Linked DNA regions of Homo sapiens. The protein of the gene in region 1 interacts with the protein of each later gene in a pairwise test. Each region holds a gene or a part of one and is shown in the gene's direction. Other genes may lie near its edges.

Region 1 (5,798 bases):
ATGTAAATAAAATTCTTACACAGCCTCCCCCTCCTGAATACCTGTTGACAAAGTCAATGAAACTAAGTTATTCCTTGTAAAATACAGACCACACCTTATGCCACATTAAGACAATTTGTCCCCTAATCGAAATGTTATGAGGAAAATTAAGTAAGGAATTAAGCTGGGAATTGAGAAAGTACGCAATGGGTATGTAAGACGTGGCACAATCCATAATCTCTAAACCAAGGAAGGGAATGAAAGAACCTTCTGAATTTTGTAAGACCAATATGAGGCATCTAAAGAAACTGAAAACGGTGTTTGCAGGGAAATCAGAAGAATGTAAGAAAGGAGCAAAGTAGAACGTGTGCATTCATAGAAGTCATGATAGACAGAGGTTGGTGCTTTTGGTTCTGAACTGGTGCAAGCTAAGCATTCACTCAGGGAAAGATAGATTGATACTGGCTCTGAGAGAAATACAAAGTTTGGGGACCTGGGTCACCTTCTTGCGACCTCCTACCAGCATGGGAGTGGTAGAAATACCTCTGATGAGCTAACAATGTAGATTTCCATGACAGATGCCAACTTCTGAGACTGTGAATCTAGAATGCTCTGAAGACTTGGCTGAGGGATGAAGGCCACTTACTGTGATCATCGTTCAGGGATGAAGTAAAGGACATGAAAACTAGGACATTCCTTTTGACTAGCATCAGTTATGAAAGGTGAATAAGTTCAGCATGTCTACTGTACAGTAGTGTCACTATAGTTGTAAACACTGTATCATACACCTGAAATTTGCCAAGAAGTTAGATCTTATATGTTCACACCACAAAAATAAAAAGGAAATGGTAACTACGTGGGCTAATAAACATGTTATTCACAATGGATATATATATTAGAGCATCATCTTCCATACCTGAAATAGACACAATTTTTATTTGTCAATTACACCTCAATACAGCTCGAAAAAGTATTTGGTTGATCTGGTTAATTATTACAAAAATATTCTTATCTTCAACATTAAAATTAGAAATTTTCTGAACAAAAACACTAATTCTGGGCTGCCTGCTATAGGAGACATATTGGCTAAATGCTTTGTGTACACTATTATTAATTCTTTTTTTTTTTTTTTGAGATGGAGTCTTGCTCTGTCACCCAGGCTGGGGTGCAGTGGTACAATCTTGACTCACTGCAAGCTCTGCCTCCCTGGTTCATGCCATTCTCCTGCCTCAGCCTCTCGAGTAGCTGGGACTATAAGCACCCGCCACCACGCCCGGCTAATTTTATGTATTTTTAGTAGAGACGGGGTTTCAACATTTTAGCCAGGATGGTCTCGATCTCCTGACCTTGTGATCCGCCCGCCTCGGCCTCCCAAAATGCTTGGATTACAGGCGTGAGCCACTGCACCCGGCTATTATTAATTCTTTAACAAACTTTCAAAACAGGTATTAATGTTCCCTTTGTAGAGATGAAAAAATTGAGGCTGAGAGAGTTAGTGTATTGTCATAGATTAGTTTCTCCCAGAAGAGACTCTGAGGAAAGCATTCCAGTGAAACTAGTTTATTCGGAAGTGCAGATCACACTGGTAGGGATTGGGGAAGTGATACAGAAAAGGGTACACTATCAAGTCAGTATCACAGTCACCAACTAAAGCTTAAACTAAAGGGAAAACTATCAGAAATGACAAAAAAACACACAGCTAGAGTTATCCTACTTCAGGAATGAGGAAGCTAGAGTCTTTATAAATCAGCTCTCCAGAATCATTGGTTGAGAGTTTTTCTCTGTGTTGCATTCACAGGTGACATGACTTCTTACAGCAGCAATACAAGAGCTCTTAGGCACAGAGATGCAGATTCTAACAGATGGAAATTAGTCCAAGCACACTAAGATCTAATATATATGGGTGCAGTCATGAAAACTTATCTATGATCTACAATTAGCTCCACTCAAGTAAAACCTTTGCTACTTAAATGTGATGGACAGGCACAAGCTCTAGAAGAAGGAAGAAGAGGAGGTGAGAAAGAGGAGTAAGAGAAGGGACAGAAGATGAGTGGAGGACAAAAGAAAGAAAGAGAGAGAGAGAAAGAGAAAAAGAAGGAAGGAAGGGAGAGAGAGAGAAAGAAAGAAAGAGAGAAAGAAAGAAAGAAGAAAGAAAGAAAGAGAAAGAAAGAAAGAGAAAGAAAGAAAGAAGAAGAAAGGAAGGAAGAAAGGAAGGAAGAGGAAGGAGAGAGAAGAAGGAAATGAAAAGAAAGGAGAGGAAGTGAGATGTAAAATGAAGGCCAATGAAATAAGCTACACTTACTGCTGCTATAGTACAGTGCACCTGAGATTCACAGTCTCCGTTTATTACCACCAGTTCTATTCTCCCTTCACCGCTGGCCAGCACTCTTCTTGGTCTGGATAACTGCCTGATAACTGCCTTGATAACTTCCTTCCTAAATTGTCTGAGCCTCTAGTTACTATACCACTGTCCACTGTGATTGCTGTTCTTACCGATTTGTAGTTATCACTGGACATGGACACACTATGAGATTCTCCAGTGTTATGGGTTAATTTGTGTCCCCCAAAACTCATATTCAAATAGAATCATTTAAAGTGTTATGTGATAAGGCAAGGTCATATTGGAAACAATTAGGCCTCTGATTAAATATGACTGATGTCTATATAAAAGGGGGAAATTCAGAGACAGCATGCATATAACAGAAAAATTATATCAAACACACATGGAAATGATAGACATCAACAAGTCAAGGAGAGAGACCTGGAACATGTACTTCCCTCACAGGCTTCAGATGAAAACAACATTGCCAAAACCTTAATTTCTGAACTGTGAAAAGATAAATTTAAGCCACTTGGTTTACAGTAATTTATTATGGCAGTGCTGGTAAGTTAATACACTTACTAAGTATCCTGAGCTATAGATATATTCTGCTACACTATATGGCTTAAAGATAATTACCCCTCACCAAATAGTAACTCCTTTCTCTGTCTGCTGCTCTGCTGACGGGAAGAGTCCAAAATGACTAGGCGATAACGATTCCTTTTGATTATAACAAAGAAACAGAGAAGCAAATACTATAATTTTTATTCACATGGAAATTTTAAAAAGCCAAAGTCATCTACTGGATTATAACTTGATAGAGTGATTAGCTGTTTGGAAATGAGTAAGCGGATATAATTGGGAGAGAATGGCATTAATTTCTATTTCCTAACCTGGTAATGGGGACATAGATGTATTTACAATGTAATACTATATCAGGTTGGAAATTAATAATTTGCATTCTTCTCAAGTGAATGATATACCTAGACAATGTTTTCAACATGTTAGAACTCCACGATGAATCAGGTGTCATCTCAACTCATCTAATCCCTTCATTGAAAAGAAATAGAAGAAATTACTTCTACTTACTTCTTCTTCTAGTTACTGCTAGTAACTAGGTTTAGGGCTAGAGCCACAGCACATGCTGGTTGGCCTGAATTTCAACGCTTACTTCTAGTTACTGCTAGTAACTAGGTTTAGGGCTAGAGCCAGAGCACATGCTGGTTGGCCTGAATCTCAAGAAGTTACGTGATAGAAAGTCCTCCATTCTCATCCCGGAAATCCCCACACTCCCAGACAAGTCAGAATGAATGGTCGTCCTAGGGCATACATTGCTTGATGCTGTCTAAATCTCAGCAGATTTCTCTGCATCCACCTGTTCTCGATCTGCTCTGTCGCATGGAACACACTGTGCAGTCACCGTCTTCCCAAGTGACATTCAAAGAACTGAAAGACACAGATGATGTGGGTGGCACAAAGAGATGCCTGTTAGTCTTGAGTCAGAATTTGGTGGGTGAATAGTCTTGGGCCCAGGCATGGATTCATTTTGTCACTGTAAATATATCAGCATCATGCTTCTCCCCACAGACACTTCCAAGTCTATATACAGCCAAACATGAGGCTGGCCAGAGAGAACTTCCTGAGCCCCCCGGATCAACAGGAACTGTCACATGACCAGATGATGGTCAGAGCAGGAATGATGCTGATGATGAGACGGGCTTCCTTTTATCTGAAACAAACTTTCTATGAGTAACTCACAATTAAGAAACAGATTAAACCCTTAGTTTAAAAGGTTCATAAGATTTCAGTAACAACTTCCCCTTTGACAATCCCAAATGGACTGTGGAAAACAATGTAAACAGCAACAAGGAAAAGTCCTGCTGATTGGTGGAAACTTTGGAGGCCAGGTGTATAAAAGGTCCAGATTGCAAGGGGTCATCAGATTTTGGGAAACTCACCTCTTAACAGAAGCCCACCCTCCATCCCTGACACCATGACCCACTGTTGCTCCCCTTGCTGTCAGCCTACCTGCTGCAGGACCACCTGCTGGCAGCCCACCACTGTGACCACCTGCAGCAGCACACCCTGCTGTCAGCCCTCCTGCTGTGTTTCCAGCTGCTGCCAGCCTTGCTGCCACCCAACTTGCTGTCAAAACACCTGCTGTAGGACCACCTGCTGCCAGCCCATCTGTGTGACCAGCTGCTGCCAGCCTTCCTGCTGTAGCACACCCTGCTGCCAGCCCACATGCTGTGGGTCCAGCTGTGGTCAGAGCAGCTCCTGTGCACCTGTGTACTGCAGAAGAACCTGCTACCACCCCACAAGTGTTTGTCTGCCTGGTTGCCTAAACCAGAGCTGTGGCTCCAACTGCTGCCAGCCCTGCTGCCGCCCAGCCTGCTGTGAGACCACCTGCTGCAGGACCACTTGTTTCCAGCCCACCTGTGTGTACAGCTGCTGCCAGCCTTCTTGCTGCTAATCAACTCCCAAGAGAACTACCATCCTCACACAACAACCTTCAGCTCAACTGACTTGTCTTTTGAGGGACTAATTTACTTTGCTGCTGACAGCCACCATGCTCTCACCCAAATTTTTATGAATTCTCTACATGTTTAAAATCTTGGGAATCTGCTTGAGGGAGGGCAGAATACTTCATCCTCATTCCCTCTTTCCTTACACCTTGTGGATCATGTGCCAGCTTCGTCTGTTCTTAATTTGGAGTCATGATCTCAGCTTTGTCTCAAAAATCAAGAGCTTCATTCTTTGCTTCTAAGGAATTTAGGTTTCTGCAACTGATCAATCATCTTTGCAATTATATTTTCATTTTAAATATCCTTCTCATGGTTCTTGTATCCTTCTTTCTTCTTTTCACGATAACTTTGGGTTATGTCTCTGGTAGCAGAGATTCTTACCTATATGTTTCTGAATAAACTCTGAACCATCTTCATCTCATATAGTGTTTTGTTTTATTTGAAAGCATTCCTGATATGGGATTTACACACATATCACATACCATAGGTATTATCCAATTTGATTCTCAAAACAGATGGTCGTGTATTATTAACTCCATTTTTTCAGCTGAGAACAATTTAATGTGTGATGTTATGTAGCTAGTAAAGGGCAGACTCTGGTCAAAGGTGAGGTCCTCTCTTTCTGCCCAAGGACACTTACGTTTAACTCCCAATATAGTAGAAAAGACACTGGAAGTCAGCACTAGCAAGACATGTACTTGAGTTTATTTAACAATGAGAGGAATAATCTGACATATTTGCAGATAACACTTTTGTTCACACACAAAAAAATCCCAAAGTAGTTCCCCACACCTCAGTGAGCAAAGGCTGCATGATATGCATTTAATGGCTGCCCTGAATGCAGAGATCTTTTTGTCTGAGCCTCTGACCAGCCATTCATTCAATTCATCTGCATCAAAAAATGCTTGAGAATTTATTGTGGACTCAGGAGACGGAGCCTCATCTGAAGAAACTTATTCTCAGTGTGATGTAAA
Region 2 (7,053 bases), on another chromosome or scaffold:
GCCCAGGCTGGAGCAGTGGTGCCATCACGGCTTACTGCAGCCTTGACTTCCCCATCTTGAGCACCTCCGCCTCCCAAGTAGCTGAGACTATAGTCGCCCACTACCACACCTGGGTAATTTTTAATTTTTTATGGAGGTGGGGTCTCGATACATTGCCCAGGCTTGTCTCTAGCTCCTGGCCTCAAACAGTCCTCCTTCTTTGGCCTCCACAAGTCTTGGGATTGCAGGCGTTAGCCAGTGCACCTGGCTAACAACTTAATTTGTTATCGTTTGCTTTTTTCCCCCAGAGCTTGTTTTCTTTTCTTTCTAGCTGGTTTTTATTTCCTTTTCAATTTAAAAGAGTGAATTCAACATTCCAACTGAAGACAATGTGATAGCCATGAAGTCTTTGTGTGAGAAAGTTAAGAGGGAAGTTAGTCTACTACAGAGATCAGTAGTGAAGAGGGGCCCAGTGGGATGGCTCACACCTGTAACCCCAGCACTTTGGGAGGCTGAGGCAGGTGGATGGCTTGATCTCAGGAGTTCAAGCCTGGGCAACATAGTGAGACCCCCCATCTCAATTGTGAAAAATCATATTAAATAAATTAAAAATAGCAAAGAGGGAAAGGGTCTTTCCTGTTTCCCTTCAGTCATTTACAACATTTTATAAAACAGTATAGGTAAGAAGGAAGGCGAATCTGTAATCAAGGAAAGAGGTGTTCCAGCTGGCTATTTGAAAGCTGTGTGTCATGTGACTCAACCCCATGATCACATTGCTTCAAGACAGTTTAGAGATGCACCAGCTTAAATATTTGAATTACTTGGTTGTTTTTGTTTGTTTGTTTGTCTTGAGACGGGGTCTCACTCTGTCGTCTAGGCTGGAGTGCAGTGGTGCAATCTCAGCTCACTGCAGCCTCCACCTCCTAGGTTCAAGTAATTCTCCTGCCTTAGCCTCCCAAGTAGCTGGGATTACAGGTACATGCCACCATACTCGGCTAATTTTTGTATTTTTAGTAAAGACAGGGTTTTATCACATTGGCCAGGCTGGTCTCCAACTCCTGTCCTCAAGTGGTCCACCCACCTTGGCCTCCCAAAGTGGCGGGATTACAGGTGTGAGCCACCATGGCTGGCCTGACTTACTTCTTCCAACAGCCTATATAGGTAGAAAATTTCTAGTTATGTAATCAGAGGTTAATTGGTGGACTGTGCCTGATTAAGCATAAATTTCATTTTTCTATAAATTAGTAATTTTATTTATTTATTTTTTTTGAGACGAAGTTTCACTCTTGTTGCCCAGGGTGGTGTGCAGTGGTGCAATCTCGGCTCACTGCAACCCCTGCCTTCCAGTTTCAAGCGATTCTCCTGCCTCAGCCTCCTGAGAAGCTGGGATTACAGGCGCCTGCCACCACGCCTGGCTAATTTTTGTATTTTTAGTAGAGACTTGGTTTCACCATGTTGGCCAGGCTGGTCTCGAACTCTTGACCTCGTGATCCACCTGCCTTGGACTCTCAAAAGTGCTGGGATTACAGGTGTGAGCCACCACGCCTGGCCTAAATTAGTAATTTTCAAGAGTTGTATTTCAATTTGATTTCAGGGTCGTTAGGTACCACGGACCCTACTGGATTGAACAAAGGAGGACGAATGCGGGAATAAAGACAAAGGCAAAAGAATATGTTTGGAACAAGGGGTCAGGGGGCTTCTTGCTTGTAGTGAACGTGGGCCCCGAGCTTCTAGCACCCTTCATGTTTACTGAGTAAAGGGGATAGAGAGAAGCGGGTGGTTGTAGGTCAGCTACTTGATTTAGAGCAGGCCTGCATGACTGCATTTTTCAAACAATAGGCTCCAGATGTCCCAGTAGATAACCTCAAGCAGCACAGCACCAGGGAGTGATTGTCCTCAGTATACCTTCTGGCAGCAGAAGCAGATGTGAGTTTGCCCACATTCTGCATTCATGATAAACAGTTCACTGTTTATCATATAGCCTTCAGTGGAAAGCTGAGTTGGTCACAACCTTTGGGCCTTGGGCTCCCAACATCTCTCCCTTTCTGTTTATGCATTAATTGAATGAATGTAAGGCCAGGTTGGGCAGCTCTCATTTTCTGATTGGCGGTCCATCTGATTTTACAGACTATGAACAAAAAACAGAGACTAAACAACATCATTCCAATAACTATATATGAGATGTTAATATAGTGCTTTAGATTGGTCCAAATATTGAGGCTCTCTAGGCCTTGCAGGAATTCACTCCAGACTTCTAAGGAAGGCTGAAACTCTTGAGTTTGCTTATTTAAGTCAAGAATTTTGTTTTGCAGTTCACCAATATCAAAGGTCCCGTGGATGCTCACTTTGGTTGTATTCTAAGTTGTTTACACAAATATGAGTGGCATTAAGATGACAGCACAATTGCTGTTGCAATTGTAAGCTTTGTGCTTGTTCCCCTAACCATAGAACTATGGATTTCAACATTGCCACTTCAGTTTGTAACTCAGTGTTAATTCTATTATGAAGTAGCCACACTTGGTTGGCTGTATGCATCCAGTTCTGCACGTACTGAACTGTTTGAATAGAACTATGCAAAGTGATGGAGTACATCACAACAGAAGTTTTTGGTGTGACCAAGGAAACAATAGCCAAAATTATCATGCCTAAGGCTCTACGGGCACGATGAGTAAGCTGAGTTAGAAGAAGTTTCACAAAGTGCAAAGCAGGGGTGGCAGCCCAAGGCTTGGACAGATTAATGGGAATCCATAGCCCAGGGATGCAACCCAAAATCATCAAAGTAGAGATATTATGTGTTTGTGGCCAGGCACAGTGGCTCACGCCTGTAATCCCAGCACTTTGGGAGGCCAAGGCAGGTGGATTACAAGGTCAGGAGTTCGAGACCAGCCTGGCCAACATGGTGAAACCCCGTCTCTACTAAAAATACAAAAATTAGCCAGGCATGGTGGCGGGCACCTGTAATCCCAGCTACTCAGGAGGCTGAGGCAGGAGAATTGCTTGAACCCAGGAGGCAGAGGTTGCAGTGAGCCGAGATCGTGCCACCGCACTCAAGCTTGGCAACAGAGCAAGGCTCTGTCTCAAAAAAAAAAAAGAGATATTATGTATTTGCAATGTGCTATGATTAATGTAGTGATATAACTGACAAGATTTACAGGTCAATTGGGTATTGTTTACCTGGAGCTAATCCTTCTTAGCTGCCAAAAAGACATAAGGATTAAAAACACAAACCGTAAACTGAGTGGTGATATTCTTTACAAGTGTAGCATTAAAACTGTGTTGCTTACTATTGCTATTATTGGATAGTATCCCAACCCCGATGCTGCCATTCATAAATGAAGGTGCTGCCTTCCATAACGTCTTTTGGATTGGTCCTTGCCTGCCTGGATAATGCCACTGAGGAAGAGGTGAGCTAAAGCCTGCTCCACACCAAGCAATCTGGGCAGCAGACTGGGATTGGATCCCGGTGTGGTATAAAGAAGAAGTATTAAAAGCTTACCACCAATGCCAGCCAAGTTTGTGCCATGATTTCTAATTTTCATCTTTTCCATGTAGTTGACCTTTAGGTCCCCAATCCACAATGTCTGCAGTTAACATAGATTGTTTTCTATGGGCCAAGACTCTGGGTCCATGGAGGGGGGTAGGAACTATGGAAGGGAATCCATTCCATATAGTCAGCACAGGTGGGGCGACTGGGCCGGGAATGGTTGGTTAGCACACCAGTTACATTAATGGAACCAAAACATAATAAGTACATGACTTTTCCATAGTGATTCCACCATGCTTGAGCTTGAATTATAAGACAGCTACTGTTGAGTGACATCTCTGTGGTGATACACAAAGGGAGTCCTTCTAGTGGGGTGGTATAATTGATGACATTGTTCTAAGAGTCTAACTGTTCTATGCCATGGGGAGTTAGGGGTCCTGGAGCCCACGGTCCCTGATCATGATAGATTTCAGAAAGAGCGTCACTCCAAAGTATAGGCCGTACTGCTGGGGGATTGGGAACATATGCCCAATATGTTTTTACCTCTGTACAGGGAAAACATACTGCACAGGACATTATGGCTGACAGGCCAAGAACATGGCATCAGGGGTTTTTGCCTGTCCCTGACGCTCCAGTAGTTTCTCAGCTTCTTGCATGGTTTTCTTGAGTTGTCCCCAGGTTATGGGGGTTGATGTCGTTGTGACTCCGGTCAGCCTTCTCTCCGTCTTCACACTCAGGCTCAGCTGGCTCATGGGTTGTACCGGAGGGACCAAGCCCATTGTTGGCCACCATGGGTCCCTCCAGTTTCCCGTTCCATGGTGGCACGCACCTTGAGGGCACTCACATGGTGTGTCCATCTCCTGTAGAAACACAAGCATACCTTCATCCCCATGTCAGTAAATCCACCGGACCTTTCCATTGTCCTTCTTCCAGGGATTTCCATAACACTTTCAGATAAACTTTCCTCTTTTCCTCTAACACTTGCCAATGTCTTTCTGCTGGAGTCTTACCATCCAGACCAGGAGTCAAACAATTTAAAGTAAATAAGGCTAAATGTAATTTTATTTGAGGTGGTAGCTGGTCTCCTATACCCCCTTTCTGTTTTTTCAACATGCATTGTAATGTTTGATGTGCCCACTCTATAATGCCTTGTCCTCAGGGATTGTAAGGTATTCCTGTTTTGTGGGTGATTGCCCATAACTGTAAAAAGTTTTGAAAAACATGGCTAAGTATAAGCAGGTCCATTGTCCGTTTTTAATTGTTTAGGGATCCCCATATGAGCAAATGATGACCGACAATGTCACCGCACATGAGCAGCTGTCTCGCCTGTTTGGCATGTAGAATGCAGCATATGAGATTAAGTGTCTATAGTTACATGAACATAGCTAAGCTTGCCAAAGGCTGCTATATGTGTAACATCCATCTGCCAAATTTCATTTGGAGCCAAGCCTTGTGGATTGCATCCTTCCACAGGTATAACACCAGGGACATGCTGACAAGTGGGACAGGCTTGCGCCATAGTTCGAGCCTGGCTGTGAGGCAGGTGAAACATACGAGTAAGGGCGAGGTGTTTTGAGGCAGTATTGCCTGAGAAGTTTGAGCTTGTTGAAATACAGAACAAACCAGTTTATCTGCTCTATCATTACCTAGAGATAGTGGTCCAGGGAGTTGTATGTGAGAGCAAATATGAGAAATATGTAAAGGAGCAGCATGAGAGCGAACAGCTTGTTGAAGTCTTAGAAACAAGCTAAGCAGTTCTGGCTCTAGTGTGCTTTTAATTGTAGCAGTTTCTATGCGACTGGCTACATTTACGACATAGGCTGAATCACAGACAATGTTAATGGGAGTTGAAGCTGTGAGCTCTAAAACTAGAATGACTGTAATTAACTCTGAGCGTTGAGCTGAAAGTCCAGAGATCCTTATTGTCTGAGTATGTTTAGGTCCCAACATAGCTGCACGCCCTTTGGAAGAGCCATCGGTAAAATAGGCCTGACCACCTGGAATAGGCTCGTGATGAGTAATCACAGGGAAGATAAAATAATAGACATTATAAAATTGTAAAACTTTGTCCGATGGAGAGTGGTTGTCTATTATTTCCACAAAATCTGCAAGAGCAATTTGCTACACAGTCGATATTTCCCATGCTGTGGCCTGTTGTTGGGAATCCAAGGAAACAATAATTGCGTCTGGATCATACCCCATAAGCACTTTTAATTTATGCCTACCTATAGTCACAAGTTGTGTAATTAAAGGAAGATAGGCTTGCAAGGTTTTAACTGTTTGATTAGGTAGAAAGAGCCATTCTATTACTGATACAGACTTGTCTAAGCACTGGCCCAGGAGTCCTGTTGGAGAATGAGGGGTATGAAGAATAAGCAAAGGCTTTTGCGGCTACAGCCATGAGGCATGTCTCTGCTGAAGCATCTGTTCTACAAGTTGCAACTCAGCTTCTGCCTCTTTGGTCAATTGCTGCGGGGAAATCTAATGAAGAATCTCCTTGCAGGGTTTGATAAAGATGTTTGAGTCGATAAGTTGCAATACCTAGCATTGCGCACAGCCAATGAATATCCCCTAACAACTGTTGAAAATCATTTAAAATCTGTAACCTGTCTTTATGGAGAACTACTTTCTGAGGCCGAACACTTCTTTCAGTAACAATAGTGCCTAAGTAATGGTATGGGGAAGTTGCTTGTACTTTCTCTGGACCAATTTTGAGATTCCATTTAGTCAAAGCCTGCTTCCTTTCTCTGAATAACTGATGTAAGATTTGATCTGTAGGAGTGGCCAAAAGAATGTCATCCATGAAATGAATGATGTGAGCAGTAGGAAACATATTCAGAGTCTCCTTCAATGTTTGTCCTACAAAATGCTGACAGCGTAGGACTGTAAAGCATGTCTTGGGGTAAAACTTTCCTTTGATAAAGAGAAACAGGTTCTCTTGGATGAATAGAAGGCACAGAGAAGGCAGATCCAGGCTTATCCTTCTCGTGTAAGGGTATAGTAAAGAAAGGTCTATGCCGGGCGCAATGGCTCACGCCTGTAATCCCAGCACTTTGGGAGGCCGAGGTGGGTGGATCATGAGGTCAGGAGATCAAGACCATCCTGCCTAACATGGTGAAACCCCGTCTTTACTAAAAATACAAAAAAAAAAAAAATTAGCCAGGCATGGTGGCAGGCACCTGTAGTCCCAGCTACTTGGGAGGCTGAAACAGGAGAATGGCGTGAACCCGGAAGGCGGAGCTTGCAGTGAGCCGAGATCGCACCACTGCACTCCAGCCTGGGCGACAGAGCGAGACTCCATCTCGGAAAAAAAAAAAAAAAAGGGGGTCTATTGCTACAAGAGGCCAGTCTCTAGGAATGACGGCTGCAGATGGCAAGCCTTGTTGTAATGCACCCATCAGTTTAATTTGTGCATTAATAGCTCTCAAATCATGCAGCAGTCGCCATCTTCCTGACTTCTTTGGAATTACAAACACTGGTGAATTCCAGTGGCTAACCGACTCCTCTTTATGGCCTGCATCCAGTTGCTCTTTTTCTACTGCTGAAGTTGAGTTAGTTTCTCCTGTGATAGGGGCCATTGATCCACCCAC

Evidence for each region. Proteins that work in one complex are often made in the same cells at the same time.
Region 2: the proteins of KRTAP9-3 (region 1) and ZNF439 interact in binary tests that used the Homo sapiens proteins (3 or more experiments, as listed by UniProt).

The regions. Positions count from the first base shown.
Region 1 is NC_000017.11:41,228,210-41,234,007, forward strand, and holds KRTAP9-3 (keratin-associated protein 9-3), read left to right. Parts: upstream 1-4,239; 5' UTR 4,240-4,292; coding exon 4,293-4,772; 3' UTR 4,773-5,245; downstream 5,246-5,798. UniProt on the Homo sapiens protein: In the hair cortex, hair keratin intermediate filaments are embedded in an interfilamentous matrix, consisting of hair keratin-associated proteins (KRTAP), which are essential for the formation of a rigid and resistant hair shaft through their extensive disulfide bond cross-linking with abundant cysteine residues of hair keratins.
Region 2 is NC_000019.10:11,851,699-11,858,751, forward strand, and holds part of ZNF439 (zinc finger protein 439), read left to right. Parts: intron 1-7,053. UniProt on the Homo sapiens protein: May be involved in transcriptional regulation.